Regions from separate parts of the Homo sapiens genome. Here region 2 is linked to region 1. Evidence: fine-mapped expression QTL. Tissue or cell type: whole blood. Region 1 holds a variant in brackets; the other region holds the start of a gene. All regions are shown on one strand. Distances are from middle to middle.

Region 1 (4,217 bases):
GTTGGTCATTTTCTAGGGACAGAAGAAGGACTCAAAGTGGCTTCATCAAACAGGGAACTGAGGCCGGGTGCAGTGGCTCATGCCTGTAATCCCAGCACTTTGGGAGGCCAAGTCAGGTGGATCATTTGAGCTCAGCAGTTCGAGACCAGCCTGGGCAACATGGCAAAACCTTGGCAACAAGGCTTGAGCCTGAGGCTGAGGCTGGAGGATCACTCGATCCTAGGAAGTGGAGGTTGCAGTGAGCCAAGATGGTGCTACTGCACTCCAGCCTGGGCAACAGAGTGAGACCCTGTCTCAAAAAAGAAACAAAAAATAAAAAAAAATATTTATTTATTTATTTATTTATTTATTTATTTTTTGAGACGGAGTCTCGCTCTGTCGCCCAGGCTGGAGTGTAGTGGCACAATCTCGGCTCACTGCAACCACCCCCTTCCAGGTTCAAGCGATTCTCCCGCCTCAGCCTACCAAGTAGCTGGGATTATAGGCGCTTGCCACCACGCCCAGCTAATTTTTGTATTTTTAGTAGAGACGGGGTTTCACCATGTTGGCCGGGCTTGTCTCAAACTCCTGACCTCAGGTGATCAGCCCGCCTCTGCCTCCCAAAGTGCTGGGATTACAGGCGTGAGCCACCATGCCCGGCCTAAAATATTTTTTAAAAACAGGAACCAGATGGAAAATATTGGGTTTCAGGTATGGCTGGATCCAGGAACTAATGCTTCATCTCGGTGCTGCTGTCCTCCCTGCAGGCTCCTCTCTCAGACAGGCATCCCCACGGTAGGAAGGAAAGAGGCTCCAAGCTCCAGGCTTCCCTCTGTCCAGCTCAGTCTCCCGCTAGTGGAAGCAGGGTGTGCATCTTCCCCATGCACTCTGGCAAAAGTCCCAGCTGCTGCCAGTAAACATTGCCTGTCTCCTACTTCTCGCACCCAAGGGACTGTGCATAGGGGTGGGTTTGCAGCCAACTCCAGGGGCCTCCAGGGCTCACACCTGCAATCCCAGCAGTTTGGGAGGCCGAGGCGGGTGGATCACTTGAGGTCTGGAGTTCAAGACGAGCCTGGCCAACATGGTGAAACCCTGTTTCTACTAAAAATACAAACACATTTTAGCTGGTCAGGGTGGCGGGCGCCTGTAATCCCAGCTACTTGGGAGGCTGAGGCAGGAGAATCGCTTGAACCCGGGAGGTTGCCGTGAGCCAAGATCGCGCCATTGCACTCCAGCAACAAGAGCCAAACTCCGTCTCAGAAAAAAGAAAGGAGGATAAACGCTCAAGGGAGGGCATGCCTGGTGGAGGGAACGGCTTGAGCAGAAGCTGGGATGTGGCAGATCCGGAGCGGGGCGGGGGGCATTTGCAGAACTCTGACCAGCCACCGTGTGGCTGGGGCACCGAGATCCAGGCCTCTGTTTCCCTATCTAGATGCATCGATGGGGAAAGGGAGGCCCCCAGACCAAAGGGGCGGGGCCTGGGCCTCTTGCCTCCTGGCCCTATTGGCTGCCAGGGGTCTCTCCCCGAGAGGTCTCATCCTTTTTTTGCCACAAAATTCAGTAGTTCTGGGCTTTTTAACTCCCCTCCTCTGTCTGAAACCGGAAAAGTCTGTTTAGCAAACGCGGTGGGAGGAGGCAGGGCGGGCCCGGCCGGGGAAACGCGCGCCGCTGTTGCCACCTGGTGGCCATGGGGAGAATCTGGACTACCCGCTAATCGCCAGGGCTGGGGTGGGATTTCAGGAGCCCCCCCCCACACCTCGGCTCAGACCGCAGTGGGGATCAGGGGGAGGCGGCTGCAGAACGCGAGGGAGGTGGGGCAGTGTGGGCAGAAAGAGGGAGGATTCAGGGTGTGTAAGGGGGGCAAGGGTCCTGCTGCGAGTTGGTGGGCGTGAGGAGGAAGGAGCGTGGGGGCAAACCACGGTTCCTGTTACCGGAGTGCCCGGCTGCTCCACTCCCCCTAGGCCGTCCCTTCCCCTGCTCAGTCCTAACTTAGTAGGGTTCCAAGCTCTCATCCGGCTCTGTCTCCCCCGGATTAGGTGCTCCTGGAGGAGACCTAGAGGAAGAGATTAATAAATATATGTGGAATGAATGAATGAATGAATGAATGAATTCCAAGGCTCGTGTTTTGAGATTTTGAGCAGGACATTCAAGCTTCAAACAGGAAAAAAATACCCAAGAGGAGGCTCATTTACGATGATTTTGAACAGCTGTGTAAGGTCATTATCACCACCCCCATTTTATAGGGGGGTGAGGGTGGGGTGGGGGGTGGGATGGGAGGACCGTCATTTTTCCCACAA[A/T]GTTTACAGCCCCCTTCCCTATATGCCTGGATCCTCCAAGCTACAAGACCCCGCAATGCTGCAGGGAGCCCTTGAGTCCAGACTCCCCATCCAGTGCTCCTGGGGGTGGATGCCCAGCCCAGGGTCCAGGGATCCATCTGAGCCCCCCTTGCCCCCATTCCCAGTCCATTCTACGCCAGAACAGGTAAATGGCAGGGTCTGCTCCTGCCCCACGGATGCCAGGCCCAGCAGGGTGCAGCAGCTTCCATTTCATGGCAGCATCTAGGGTTCCCCCGCAGGATGGGTGGCAACAGGCACGGGGCAGAGAGGAGGCAGGTGCACTGGAGCCTGGAGGAGCTCTGGGTTATTTGGGTCCAAATGTGACTCCTGTGTGTGCTACGTAGCCTCGGGCGAGTCACTCACCCTCTCTGAGCCTCAACGATCACATCTGTAAAGTACAACAGTCATGGTTCCTTTCAGGGGGTGGTTGTAGGGATTTGGTAGGGAATCATGTGAGTGGATGGAATGGGCTGGGTATGCCATAAGTGCTTAATAACCAGCCGTTGTGATTGAGATAGTCGCTCTTCGTGTCTGTAAGACAAAGTGGATGTTTTCGTTTCTCCCTCAGGCCTCCAGGCCCTGATATCCCAGGAGCGATGGATGTCTAGCCCCCCCACCCCCCGGGCAGGGTTGCACCCCTGACCGTCTGGCCCACTGGGCCCCAGGACCTTGGCCTTGCACCTGTCTCCATCCTCCAAGGACAACTCTGTATCCAGGGCCAGCTCAGGGGCACCCTCAGGTAGCTCTGTCTTCTCGAGAGGCTCAGTCCTCTCGCCTTTGTCCCAGGACATCTCTACCACCAGGGCCTCCTGCAGGGATGCCTCTTCCTGGAAGTCCACTGGGTTGATCCACTGCCAAGTCTGCAGAGGGAGGGTAGGGCCACAGCTGTGAGCAGAGCTCTACTTCCCATCCACAGCAGGATGGAACGGACCAGGTCACTGCTGGTTAAATTCTCTAACATCCTGAGACCTGGACGGGTGCAGTGGCTCACACCTGTCATCCCAGCACTTTGGGAGGCTGAGGCGGGTGGATCACTTGAGGTCAGCAGTTTGAGACCAGCCTGGAGAACATGGCCAAACCCCATCTCTACTAAAAATACAAAAATTAGCTGAGCTTGGTTGCGCACGCCTGTAATCCCAGCTACTTGGGAGGCTGAAGCAGGAGAATCGTTTGAACCCGGGAATCAGAGGTTGCAGTGAGCCGAGATGGCGCCACTGCACTCCAGGCTGGGTGACAGAGCGAGACTCCATATATCCTGAGACCGATTTGAGGATGGAGTCTGCCGCACTGACTCCCATTCAGCCCCTCTTAGGAAGAGCACTCCCATCTGTCTTTGGGAAATTTCCCTCCCTCTTTTCACAGATGGTGTGGTTGACAGTGCAGTGACCCCACCTCAGCTCTAGCAATGGTCATGTGACCCTGGCCAGCCCACCCATCAGACCCTTCCCTACCCCTCTGGTTCTAGCCATAGGCTCAGGGAAGGGCATGTGACCCAAGCTGGACCAATCAGTGATGGCCCTGAGACTTTTGCCCCAGTTAATGGGGAAAATGGACACCCTGCTTCCAATCAGAGAAGGCTCAGCCTGCCTGCGGAAGAACCCTGAACGGGCAGCTCCGAGATAGACCCCAATCGCTGGATTCAGGCATATCTGAAGCCCATTCCCTTGGGATTTTTTCCATCAGGTTTCCTTTATAATAAAGCCACTTTGAATTCTGTTTCTAGTGCCAGGAAATGGACCTCTGCCTGCCTGTCTTTAAAATGGGAAGGGGTATGGAGCACTGGTTTTGGAGTCCTTACCTTGATGAATTGGGAGAGAATAAAATGAGCTAATGCGTAACCCTTGTCCAGCATGTGCACCCAATAAAAAGACTTGGAATTAGAAAAGGCATCCTTACCTCCTT
Region 2 (4,000 bases), 28 kb after region 1:
ACACTTGGCCCACTAGCAGTCAGGGCAATTATTAATAACATTTCTCCAGGAGGCAGCGACCTCCCTCAGCCACTGGGATCCCCGTGCCCTTTGGGATTGCCACAGTCTGCTAGGTGTGGAACTGGGTGAGAGAAGGAGGGGGATGCCACCATGGATGGGTCAGGAAGACCCCGGCGCCCTCACTCCCACAAGAAGGACCTGTCCTGAGCCCTGCAGGCAGATTGGAAGCCTTGGGGGAGAAGGCGGCACCCCAGGAAACAGCCCCAAGTGTCCAACCTTGAGGGGGGAAAGATGCTTAACACACAAGGCTCTCCATCCTTCCATCTCTCTCTGTGATGACACAGAACCCCCACCCACCCACCCACCCCTGAGAGCCTAAAGCCCATCCTCCTTCCCTTTCCCTGGACTGACCACTCACTGCCACTATCTCCAGGATACCTCGTGGGCTGCCTCTCGCCCCCTCCCTGCTGCTGGTCTCCAGCCATGCCTGGCCCCTGAAGGCGCTGGGACCTTGAGGTGTGGCCAGCACTGCTGTGGGCATTCTACAGGCACTCAGTGCATCTCAAGAGCCATTGAAAAAGTCAGCACCCCGCTGATCCCCAGTGTACAGAGAAGGAAAGTTTATTTATTATTATTATTATTGAGATAGAGTCTTGCTCTGCCACACAGGCTGGAATGCAGTGCTGCAATCTCGGCTCACTGCAACCTCTGCCTCCTGGGTTCAAGCGATCCTCCCACCTCAGCTCCTAAGTAGCTGGGAGTACAGGTGCCCATCATCAAGCCTGGCTAATTTTTGCATTTTTAGTAGAGATGGGGTTTCACCATGTTAGCCAGGCTGGTCTCGAACTCCTGACCTCAAGTGATCCACCCATCTTGGCCTCCCATAGTGCTGGATTTTCAGGAGTGAGTCACCGTGCAGGGCCTGAGATTATTAAAAGTATATGGGAAGGCTGGGCATGGTGGCTCATGCCTGTAATCTGAGCACTTTGGGAGGCCAAGGTGAGTGGATCATTTGAGCCCAGGAGTTCGAGACCAGCCTGGGCAACACAGCGAGACGCTGTCTCTGTAAAAAGTATACACCAAAAAAATTAACCAGGCATGGTAGTGTGCACCTGCAGTCCCAGCTACTCAAGGGGCTAAGGCAGGAGGATCACTTGAGCCCAGGTGGTCAAGGCTGCAATGAGTTATGATTAGGCCACTGCACTCCAGCCTGGGACACAGAGTGAGACCCTACCTCAGTAAATAAATAAATAAATAAATAAATAAATAAATAAATAAATAAATAAGTAAAGTATACGGAAGGATGTGCATAGGTTATATGCAAATACTTTACCATTTTATATCAGGAACTTGAGCATCTTTGGATTTTGGTATCTGCAGAGGGTCCTGGAACCATTGCCCCGTAAATATGGAAATGACTGTATACATTATATTATGTATGTCTATCTATTGTAAACTACATACATAAGATACTATACTATGTATACCTATTAGATACATACTTGCTTTTTATTCCTTCCTTAGTTTTTTTTCTCATTGAACTCCGGGAGGTGGAAAAAATTTAGTGCATTTCACAGAAGAGAAAATCTAGACCAGAGGAAAGATGTCTAAGTTCGATCCCAGAAGCCATGACTGCCCATCTCCCATTTGACAGCAGGAAAGACTGAGGCACAGAGAGATGAAACCAACCCACACAGCAGGCCCACAGCTCTCCACACATACACGTGCCTCCACCCAGCAAGAGGAGCCGCCATGCCAGGGTCAGGGGACTCACCGCCCTGCCTGGACAGCAGGAAGAGGAAGAGGAGGGGGACCACCCAGGTCACCAGCGGCTCCATCGGATCCACGTAGAGCCCCACAGCCCCAGGGGAGCCTCTCTGCCACCTGCGAGGTTCAGCCACCCCGTCCCCACTCCGGAACACATTGAAGCTGAGCAAGGAGAAAAGACTGAAAAAAAAGAAAAAAGAAAAAAAGTAAAGTGTCACAGCCCATCCCTAAGGCAAGTCAAAGTGAAAGAGAAACCCAGGAAGTCAGCTCCGTGGTGGTGGTGATGGTGGCGGCCACAGACTCTGGAGCAAGTCTGACTTTGGAGCAAGTCAGGGTTCTAGGGGGTTCTGCCCTGCTGGCCCCAGACCTGAACTGAACACCCAGATGCCAGCCCCATGGGCCCATGGGCCACCTGTGGTTCCATGCACTTGGCCAGGTCTCTGGCCCTCTCTAGCCAATTTTTTTTTTTTTTTTTGAGATGGAGCCCTGCTCTGTCGCCCGGGCTGGAGTGTGGTGGCATGATCTCCACTCACTGCAACTTCTGCCTCCCGGGTTCAAGCAATTCTCCTGCCTCAGCCTCCCGAGTAGCTGGAATTACAGGCAACTGCCACAACATCGAGCTAATTTTTGTATTTTTAGTAGAGACAGGGTTTCACCATGCTGGCCAGGCTGGTCTCGAACTCCTAACCCTAAGTGATCCACCCACCTCAGCCTCCCAAAGTGCTGGGATGACAGGCGTGAGCTACCGTGCCTGGCTGCCAAATTCTTTTTTTCTTCTTTTGAGATAGGGTCTTGATCTGTGGCCCAGCTGTAGTGCAGTGGTGCAATCACGGCTCACTGCAACATCAACCTCCCCAGGCTCAGGCCATCCTCCTACCTCAGCCTCCCCAGGAACTGGGACTACAGGCATGCACCACCACGCCCAGCTAATTTTTGCATTTTTTTTTTTTTAAGAGAGGGGGTTTTGCCATGTTGCCCAGGCTGGTCTCAAACTCCCGGGTTCAAATGATCCGTCCGCCTTGGCCTACCAAAATTCTGGGATCACAGGCGTGAGCCACCGCACCGGGCCATCTCGCCAGCTTCTGAATCTGAGACTCAAGAGCTGAAGGAGGGCAGTGTTCTTGGATGGCCTAATTTCATCCTTCCAACAAATTGTTACAAAGAGCTTGCAGCATGCTGGCCCTCCACAATGCCCACCTCCCCACATGCCAAGCTCCAGCCTTGTGCACCTGGGCTCACCCCTCTAATCCCAGCACTTTGAGAGGTCGAGGTGGGAGGATCACTTGACCCCAGGAGTTTGGGTCTACCTAAACAACATAGCAAGACCCCATCTCTATAAAAAATAAAGAATTAGGCCAGGCGCGGTGGCTCACGCCTGTAATCCCAGTACTTTGGGAGGCCAAGGCAGGTGGATCACGAGGTCAGGAGTTTGAGACCAGCCTGACCAAAATGGTGAAACCCTGTCTCTACTGAAAATACAAAAATTAACCGGGTGTGGTGGCAGGCACCTGTAATCCCAGCTACTGAGGAGGCTGAGGCAGGAGAATCGCTTGAACCCAGGAGGTGGAGGTTGCAGTGAGCCGAGATCGCGCCACTGCACTCCAGCCTGGGCAACAGAGTGACACTCCATCTCAAAATATATATATATATATAAATTAAAAGTTAGCCAGTCGTGGTGGCACACATCTGTATTCTCAGCTACTCAGGAGGCTGAGGTGGGAGAATGGCTTGAACCCAGGAGGTTGAGGCTGCAGTGAATCGTGATTGTGCCACTGCACTCCAGTCTGGGTAACAGAGCAAGATCCTGTCTCTTAAAAAAAAAAAAAAAAAAATTTAAGAGATGCAACTTAGTCTTTCCCCCATGTTCCATTTCTTAGCCTCTGAGTATTTTGTTTCCTGCCCCTCCCTCCCCACTGTCGGCAAAGCCTCTAAATGTCAGTGGAGAAGCTCTGATCCAAGCTACCATGTGGATGAACCCTCAAAAACATAATGCTGGGCTGGGTGCAGTGGTTCACATCTGTAATTCCAACACTTTGGGAGGCCGAGGTGGGCGGATCACCTGAGGTCAGGAGTTTGAGACCAGCCTGGCCAACAAGGCGAAACCCTGTCTCTACTAAAAATACAAAAATTTGCCAGGCCTGGTGACATGTGCCTGTAATTCCAGCTATTCGGGAGGCTGAGGCAGAGAGAATTACTTGAACCTGGGAGGTAGAGGTTGCAGTGAGCTGAGATC

Evidence for each region. PIP is the estimated chance that this variant, and not a neighbour inherited with it, causes the effect.
Region 2: IL12RB1 starts here. The variant in region 1 is fine-mapped to the expression of IL12RB1 in whole blood (TOPMed, PIP above 0.99). The same link has a PIP of 0.9 or more in T cells and blood mononuclear cells.

What each region holds. Positions count from the first base shown.
Region 1 is chr19:18,056,911-18,061,127 of GRCh38, forward strand. IL12RB1 (interleukin 12 receptor subunit beta 1) reads right to left here. Exons shown (of 17, transcript NM_005535.3): 15 at 4,212-4,217; 16 at 2,984-3,175; 17 at 2,085-2,703. The coding sequence ends at 2,698. Among named protein-coding and RNA genes, the nearest start is that of IL12RB1, 28 kb to the right of the region's middle. The variant A/T (reference allele first, on the strand shown) is at 2,277.
Region 2 is chr19:18,084,986-18,088,985 of GRCh38, forward strand. IL12RB1 (interleukin 12 receptor subunit beta 1) reads right to left here and starts at 1,949. Exons shown (of 17, transcript NM_005535.3): 1 at 1,775-1,949. The coding sequence starts at 1,838. RefSeq lists enhancers at 1,861-2,210, 2,221-2,280.